3 separate regions of the Homo sapiens genome follow, and regions 2 and 3 are each linked to region 1. The links come from fine-mapping of genetic effects on gene expression. A gene starts in region 1. Each other region holds a variant in brackets. All regions are shown on one strand. Distances are from middle to middle.

Region 1 (2,756 bases):
ATAGAATAGTTTCAAACCAGATGAGAGCTAGGAAGGAAATTTTTTAAATAATGAAATAGCATGACTAAGGGAAGAAAGAGGGTGGTCGAGGAGGGCCTCACCCAAAACGAGACATCTGACCAGAGGAAGGAGCAGAAAGAGCTACTTGTGCCAAGATCACGGAGACAACTCCAAAGACGGGGAAACAGCAAATGCAAAGGTCCTGGGGCAAATGCGGGCTGGCATGTTCAAGGCGGGCGAGATGAGTGGGACGGGGCAGCAGTCTTCTGGGGGAGGGGCGCGGTGGTAAGGGATTCGGGCTGGGTCCCCTCTGGCACTGCTGGACACCGAGTGTGCAATGACAAGGCAAGAGAGGAGTGCGCGGGGAGGCGGGAGGCTGGGCGGGTGGGGAGGGGGTTCCTACACCACTCACACCAGCACGGGCCAGCACCCTGCCCAGTCTTCCACAGATGCACACCGGGGTCCTGCCCAGGCGTCTGCATACATTCACACAGCCTGACAACAACCCTGTCCAGAAGAGACATTTCCCCACCTTCCCGAAGGCAAAACCGCGGCAGAGCGAGGGTCAGTGCCTTGGCCAAGGTCGCGGGGACGCGACCCCGGGCCCCTGGGCACCCGGCGCAGGAGTGCAGCTGTCTGCCCCACCTCCGGGAGGGATGGCGCCCGCAGACCCCACGGGCAGGTCGGCCGGGCCAGGCCGGTGAGCAGGCCCGCAGCCCGGGGCTGCTGACAGCCGGGCGGAAGGGGGCGCCTGCGGCATCCCCCAGCACAGGGGCGACGGCTGCGGCTGCCAGGGCCCCGCAGCCCCCGGCCCGCCCCGAAGCCCCCGGCCGCGCGGTTCCCTCACCGCCCCTCCCCGCGGGCCCGGCCCGAGCAGCCGCCGCCAGGCCTAGCCCGCCCGCCGGGCTCACCTCGCCTCCCCGCCGCCGCGCCACGGGGAGAGGGCGGGCGGGCGGACTGGCGGCGCTGCGTGCTAGTCACTCCTGGCTCCGCGGCCCCGGCTCCGCCGCCGGCCCGCCCCGCTCCGCTCCGCCCCGCCGCCGCCGCCGCCGCCGCCGCCGCAGTGGGTGTGAGGGGCGCCGGGGCGCTGCGACCCTTCCGGTCCCGCTCCCTTCTCCGCCGCTGCCGCCGCCGCGGCGCCCGGTCTGACAGACCCTCGCGCCGACCAATCAGCGCGCGGAGAGCGGAGCAGGCGCGGCCAATGGCGCCTGGGGGGCGGGCCGATGGAGGGTGGCGCGGGCGGGGTCGGGGGCCGGGTCGGGCGCCCGAGGTCCTGGGCCGGGGTTCCGCGGGTTCTTCGCCCCCGGGCCTTTCAGTGGCGCGGGCCGAGTGGCCATGGCGCTCGGGTGCGCGCAGTGCACGCGGTGAGCTGGAGACGCAGGCATTGCGCGGCCCACCGGCTGAGCCCGCTCTCCCTGCGAGGGGGGCGCAGCTCGGTGGAGAGGGTGGCCCGGAGGACCGGGAACCGGGCTGGAGGCGCGCGGGGCTCACACCGCGGGGTCCGCGGGGAGCCGGGCCTCGGGCTGCAGGTGCAGGCTTGTGGCGGTGAGGCGACTGGAGCGGCACGGGAGCCCGCCCGTTTCGGGGAGAGCCCGGGGCGATCGCGGGGGGAGGCCGGCCTGGCGTCCGGGAGCCCGGCGTGCTAGGGCCCGGTAGGCGGGGCGGGCCTCGCACTCGGTTGCTCGCTGCGGCGCCGGAGGAACGGGTCTATGGGGGTGTGGGTGAGGCCAGAAGCCGGGTCGAAGAGGGGGAGGGGGTGCGAAGAGATGGCGGTGTGTAGACAGGTGACCCGGTGGGTCGGTGACGCAGGAGGAGACTGCGCTTGGTGGCGGGATCACTTAGTTGACAACATCTAAAAATTAGGAGGTGCGGCAGGGCGCGGTGGCTCACGCCTGTAATCCTAGAACTTTGGGAGGTCGTGGCGGGTGGACTACCTGAGGTGAGGAGTTCGAGACCAGCCTGGCTAACCTGGTGAAACCCCGTCTCTATTAAAAATACGAAGCAATGAGCTGGGCGTGGTGGCGGGCGCCTGTAATCCCAGCTACTCGGGAGGCTGAGGCAGGAGAATCACTTAAACCTGGGAGGCGGAGGTTGCAGTGAGCCGGGATTGCGCCATTGCACTCCAGCCTGGGTGACAGAGTGAGACTCTCTCAAAAAAAAAAAAAAAAAAAAAAAAAAAAAAAAAAAAAAAAAGGGAGGTGCTCAGTCAAGCCTCTGAGAGGAGTGGGGGGCGGGGCGAGGAGTCTCTTGCTCAGAGCCCCCTAGGGACTGGGACCCGTTGACTCTGAGCTGCTTTTGAGGCTGGATCAGGTACCAGCGGCCTGGGGGTCGTACAGGATGGGAGAGGCCGGGGCTTGGGATGTTGCCAGATCTACGTTGAAAAGTGAAGCAGGAAGAGAGGCACTGAGGCTGGGCACATGGGGAAAACCGTGGAGAGCCGGCCTTTGGGGACTAGAAGAGTGGGAACAATGGTTGACAAATGGTGAGTGTGGTGTAGAACAGCAGTAACACAATACCAGGATCCACAGAGTGGCCAGGGCCAGAGTGGGGAGAAGGAACAGGACTCTGCAGATGGGGAGGGTAAGGGGCTGGGTGGCGTGAAGGGTGGTTGCAGAATTTGGGGAGGGCAGCTAGCCTGTGACCCAGGTTCCAAGGGCACTGAGGTCTGGGCCAGGCCGCTTGGAGGCACCAGAGCCTCAGAGGAGGGGTGGGGTAGAGGAACGGATCCAGCATGGTGTCCCCCTTGGCCACCAGAG
Region 2 (2,756 bases), 21 kb after region 1:
TACAGGTGAGAGTCAACAGAGAATGGCCAGCAACAGTCCACTAGATCTGAAAACATGGAAAGCTGAATTCTAGAACATACCAGGTAAAGATCTCAAGCCACGGATGATCTCTTGCCTCCTGTTTTGTAGTGAAATTCGGTCTTCAGACATCATCAAACCAAACATCACCAGAGAGATGAACTGACTGGTATAAGCCTGTGCACAAAGAAGGAGGTGGCAGGGACCTTATTTTCACTTTTTAAATCAACTTTTATTTTTGAGACAGGGTCTACTCTGTTGCTCACGCCTGAGTGCAGTGGCGAGATCACGGCTCACTGCAGCCTCAACCTCCTCAAGTGATTCTCCCACCTCAGCCTCCCGAGTAACTGGGACTACAGGTGCCACCACCCTGCCCAGTTAATTTTTAGGTTTTATTTATCTATTTATTTATTTCTATTTTGTTTTTGAGACAAAGTCTTGCTGTGTCACCCAGGCTGGAGTGCAGTGGCTCGATCTCGGCTCACTGCAACCTCCACCTACCAGGTTCAAGCGATTCTCCTGCCTCAGCCTCCCGAGTAGCTGGGATTACAGGCACCCGCCACCACACCCGACTAATTTTTGTGTTTTTAGTAGAGACGGGGTTTCACCGTGTTAGCCAGGATGGTCTCAAACCCCTGACCTCAGGTGATCCCCCTGCCTCGGCCTCCCAAAGTGCTGGGATTACAGGCCTGAGTCTCCGCACCTGGCCTAAGTTTTATTTTTGAAGGGACGGGGTTGCCCGGGGCGGTCTGGAACTCCTGGGTTCAAGGGATGCTCCCGCCTCAGCCTCCCACAGTGCTGGGATTCCAGGGGGGAGCCCCGTGCCAGCCCTAAAGGACTTTAAAATAAGCATCTCCAAGGTGCTCAAAGAGCCACAGGACAACATGGACGAAACACAGGAACGTGGCATGGGAATAAAATGAGACTAAATGAAGATATGGGGGCCGGGCACGGGGGCTCACGCCTGTAATCCCAGCACTTTGGGAGGCCGAGGCGGGCGGATCACGAGGTCAGGAGATCGAGACCATCCCGGCTAACACGGTGAAACCCCGTCTCTACTAAAAATACAAAAAATGAGCCGGGTGTGGGGCGGGTGCCTGTAGTCCCAGCTACTCGGGAGGCTGAGGCAGGAGAATGGCGTGAACCCGGGAGGCGGAGCTTGCAGTGAGCCGAGATCGCGCCCCTGCACTCCAGCCTGGGCGACAGAGTGAGACTCCGTCTCAAAAAAAATAAATAAATAAAATAAAAATAAAAATAAAAAAAATGAAGATACGGGAATCCAAGAGGGGAGGGGAAAGGAAAGGAGCGGAGAGAAGGGGTGAGGCGGGAAGGGGAAAGAAAGGCGGTGGCGCGGGCAGAGCAGGCCGGAGGAGGGCGGCCTCTGGTGCACCTGCCTCCGCCAGGCTCTCCCTGGGACGGGCGCCCGTGGCTCCTCCTACCTTGGTGCTGGCCACGCCGA[T/C]CTCCGGCCCTGCGTTGATGTGGACGCCGCAGTCGGTCTCGCGAGAGATGGAGCTGCCCACGGTGTTGGTGACGCCCACGGTGAGAGCGCCGCGGTCCTTACAGTAGCGCAGCGCCAGGAGGGTGTCCGCGGTCTCGCCTGCCGCCCAGGGGCCCTCTCAGTGCCGCGCTCCGCCAGCCTCGGCCCCACCCCAAACCCCTTCCTCCTTCACCGCCGGCTCTTACAGGGAAATCGGCGCCCGAGACACAGCCAGCGGGTGTTCAGAAAGGAAAACGCTCGCTCAACAGCCTTTTCGGTTGATTCTTACATTCAAGGTGTGTTACTATTTGTGGCAAGCATCTTTTCATTTAAATCTCGTGACAACCCCGTGAGGACCATCGTCCCCATTTTCCTCTTGAGGATGAGGGCTCAGAGACAGGAGGAAACCGGTGCTCTGATCAAAGCCATACAGCTGGTGACAGGTGGGCTTGGCTCCCAGCGCCCTCTCTGCAACTGAATAAGCTGCCTTATTCAGAACGTGCTGAGATGGAACAGATTTAACATCTGACAAGCAGGAATGTCCCCAAGTGGTGTTTCTCAGCTAGATCCTGTTTGAAAGGACACTTCTTGCAAGCCTCTCAGTGTGGACTCAAATTGTTTTTAGAATAAAGCTAAACAGCTTCATGCATAAACCAGCACAAGCTCCCTATGTTTGTGAGTCCTAAAGCACTCAAATTAAATTCAGCATAAGCCAGACTATAAAATCAAAACTGTTGAAATCCTCATGAGTCGGGAGGCTGTTCTGTTTGCAGGGCCACTGCTCTTGGCTGTGTCTGTCCCAGCTTTGCAGGGCAGGCAGGTGCCGCCCGGTGCTAGGTGGCCCAATTCTCCTCTGCTTTTCTTTCTTCAGAGCCCTGGGTTATGGCACTGGAGTGTCACGGGGTACTGCGGTGAGGGTGCGGGAAAGGGGGTTCTAACTTCTGTCACCCGCGCCCTAGGGTTCGATAGTGTTTTTTCAATCTCATTAAAGGGCTGACTTCTATACACACAGAGATTCGGAAGCTGCCACTGCATTATTTTCATATTAGCTCCACCTCTGTTCTTTTGTTAATGTCTCCCACCAATTTATAAAATAGTCTGAGGCTCTGGTGGGATCAGAAACCCAAAGGTGAACACGGCAGCAGCTCCTGCGTCATAAGGTGGTGGGCCGGATGGTCGGTGTATCTGTACTGGTTTTTCTTCACTTGTCAACAAAATGGAAATGGTATTTAAAATGGAAAATGGCAGGAGTACTAAAAGT
Region 3 (2,756 bases), 22 kb before region 1:
CACGCCTGTAATCCCAGCACTTTGGAAGGCCAAGGCAGGTGGATCATGGGGCCAGGAGATCAAGACCATCCTGACTAACATGGTGAAACCCCATCTCTACTAAAAATACAAAAAATTAGCCGGGCGTGGTGGCAGGCGCCTGTAGTCCCAGCTACTTGGGAGGCTGAGGTAAGAGAATGGCATGAACCCGGGAGGTGGAGCTTGCAGAGAGCCGAGACTGCGCCACTGCATTCCAGCCTGGGCGACAAAAAAACAAAAAAACAAAAAACAAAAAACCAATGTTAATAGCCATTTTTATCCTTAGCTTATCCTAGGTCTGAACTCAATGTATCTCCAGAAAACCCTGAAGATTACCACATTATTGACAATATGGAAGCACACAGACAAAATACATACATAACTTACATTTTTATGATTGACACATTTTAAGAGGACAAGTTCACGATAAGCTCTCTTTGCATGAGTTTGGTTCTGAAAAGGACGGCTTAGTTTCTTGACTGCAACATTTATCCCAAGAACTGTATCAAATGCAGCACTAGAATTAGGAAATATAATGCACAATCCATTAGAACGGTTTTGGAAAATACAGCAATGCCAGAATATACATTGAATATATCATCTTTTTAATAAGTAACAAGGAAAAATCTGCTTATTTCATTCAAGGTACTTGCACATATGAAGAGCAGAGTGAGTTGTCTAAGACTACAGCATGTACTAACTCCTTTGCAGAGGCACATTTCAGCCACAGTTAAGATGGGGTTCAGCAATCCTTCACACACCAAGGTTTCATAGTTTAGATTACATTCAAAACCAGGTAATTTAATATAGAGTGCATAAAACCAGTCAAGAAATGAAATCTTCAGTTTAAACATGACAAGAAGTTGGAAACAAAGTCACTGTTTCCTGTCTTAAAATGTGTATATTTTGGAATATCACAGTAGAGGAAATGGCTGAATTCATGAGGAGAATAAATCTAAATTTTGAATCACTGTGTTTTTTTCACAAATAACAGTATCTAAAAAGAAAAGAAGCCAAAATTTCAGCTCATGGTAAATGTTCAAGATACAAAATCTCTAACGTAAGCAACTGCTATATAAAGTTCTTTTAGAACTATCTCCTCCT[A/G]CTACTATAGTAAGAATAAAATCTACAGGCTGTGTTTCCAGCATCTCGTTTCCTGTTGAAATTCTGTTCATTTTCCTCCAGAAAATAGACATGAAGAATCAAGTAGCCTGATTACACATTTTTAGGTTTCAAACTGGTACTAAATAGTATCATTTGTATTATCACCTCTGGGCTACTCATGAGGGCTAACAGCTACTAAAGGCCACCTGAGAACCTAAGCACTGATTTAAATACTGTTTCTATTTCTTTATTCCATTGAGTTTATAACATTGTTTACATTTATTCTCTTCTATTAATGCTTTTGCCAAACTCGAACCTAATTCAATCTGTTTTAAAGTTGAAGGCTATCTGTTGTAGCATTTGGTTAAGAAGCTACCTTACTTTAATTCAGTTCATATTATGTGTCTGTCTATATACATATGTAAATCCACAGGTTCATATGCAAATTGCACCATTTATATGAATTATAAAATGAGAAGGATATATCCACTTGTGAAACAAGTCATTGACATACATGTAGCCATGTATGTATTTATACCTATATACTTCTCAGACTCAAGAATTTGAAAATAGGCCAGGTGTGGTGGCTTATGCCTGTATTCCCAGCACTTTGGGAGGCCAAGGCAGGCAGATCGCTTGAGCCCAGGAGTTTGAGACCAGCCTGGGCAATACAGTGAAACCTTGTCTGTACAAAAAATACAAAGATTAGCTGAGTGTGGTGGTGCATGTCTGTAGACCCAGTTACTCAGGGGACTGAGGTGGGAGGACTGCTTGAGCCGGGGGTCGAGACTGCAGTGAGCACTGATCCCTCCACTGCACCCCAGCCTGGGTGACAGACTGAGACCCTGTTGCCCAGGGTCTCAAAAAAAAAAAAAAAGAAAAAGAAAAAGAAAAAAAGAATTTGAAAACAGACACACTTTTTTGGTATCAAAAGTTTTTGTCCAAAATTTCAGTTAGATAGGAGGAATAAGGTCAGGAGGTCTACTGTGAGATATGGTGACTGCAGTTAATAACAATGTATTGTATTCTTGAAAATTGATGAGAGTAGATTTGTTCTCATCAGAAACTTTTAAAAAGTATGTGAGGTAATGCATATGTTAATTCGCTCAATTTAGCTAGTCCATAATGTATACATATTTCAGAACAATATGCTGGACATGATAAATATATACAATTTTTATTTGTCATTTTAAAAAAGTTTTTGGCTAAAACAAGGCAAATGGACCAAGTCTAAGCATCTAAGTGGGCATAAGCTTCCCCACTTGTAGCTCAGCTCCATGAGGAACTACCTTCAGTTATTCCTGGTTGTGGTTATTGCGGTCACTCAAAGAATACATTGTTATCACTATCTCTTCATTTATCAGCTTTAGAAATGATTCACCTACTCCCCATTACGAAAACTGAGTATTTGGCCACTTCCTTGAAATCCCCAATCGCCAACACCTCCTATTTTTTTTGTTGTTCTGCTTTTTGGGTTTTCCCTGGTTACGTCTTTAAGTAACACCCCTAATCTTCACGCTTCTTCAACTCTGAAGGGAACGTCTTGACTTCTGCTTACGTAAAATGAGACTGTTCCATCCCTTTCTCCTCCATTTACCATATATTCATAACTAAGTCTTCTGTATTTCTTCTTT

The links. PIP is the estimated chance that this variant, and not a neighbour inherited with it, causes the effect. A credible set is the group of variants that fine-mapping cannot tell apart.
Region 2: its variant is the best candidate, but not a certain one, in a credible set for the expression of MAPK9 in monocytes (TOPMed, PIP 0.70).
Region 3: its variant is the best candidate, but not a certain one, in a credible set for the expression of MAPK9 in monocytes after interferon gamma (Fairfax 2014, PIP 0.67).

The regions. Positions count from the first base shown.
Region 1 is chr5:180,290,937-180,293,692 of GRCh38, forward strand. MAPK9 (mitogen-activated protein kinase 9) reads right to left here and starts at 1,147. Exons shown (of 12, transcript NM_002752.5): 1 at 912-1,147. It overlaps LOC124901151 (a long non-coding RNA gene), which reads left to right and starts at 1,296. Exons shown (of 2, transcript XR_007059085.1): 1 at 1,296-1,364. RefSeq lists silencers at 663-852, 983-1,352, 1,363-1,702 and an enhancer at 1,625-2,267.
Region 2 is chr5:180,312,350-180,315,105 of GRCh38, forward strand. GFPT2 (glutamine-fructose-6-phosphate transaminase 2) reads right to left here. Exons shown (of 19, transcript NM_005110.4): 14 at 1,458-1,615; 15 at 81-195. Among named protein-coding and RNA genes, the nearest start is that of MAPK9, 22 kb to the left of the region's middle. RefSeq lists an enhancer at 1,400-1,694. The variant T/C (reference allele first, on the strand shown) is at 1,478.
Region 3 is chr5:180,268,875-180,271,630 of GRCh38, forward strand. It overlaps MAPK9 (mitogen-activated protein kinase 9), which reads right to left. Exons shown (of 12, transcript NM_002752.5): 3 at 406-535. Among named protein-coding and RNA genes, the nearest start is that of MAPK9, 22 kb to the right of the region's middle. The variant A/G (reference allele first, on the strand shown) is at 1,123.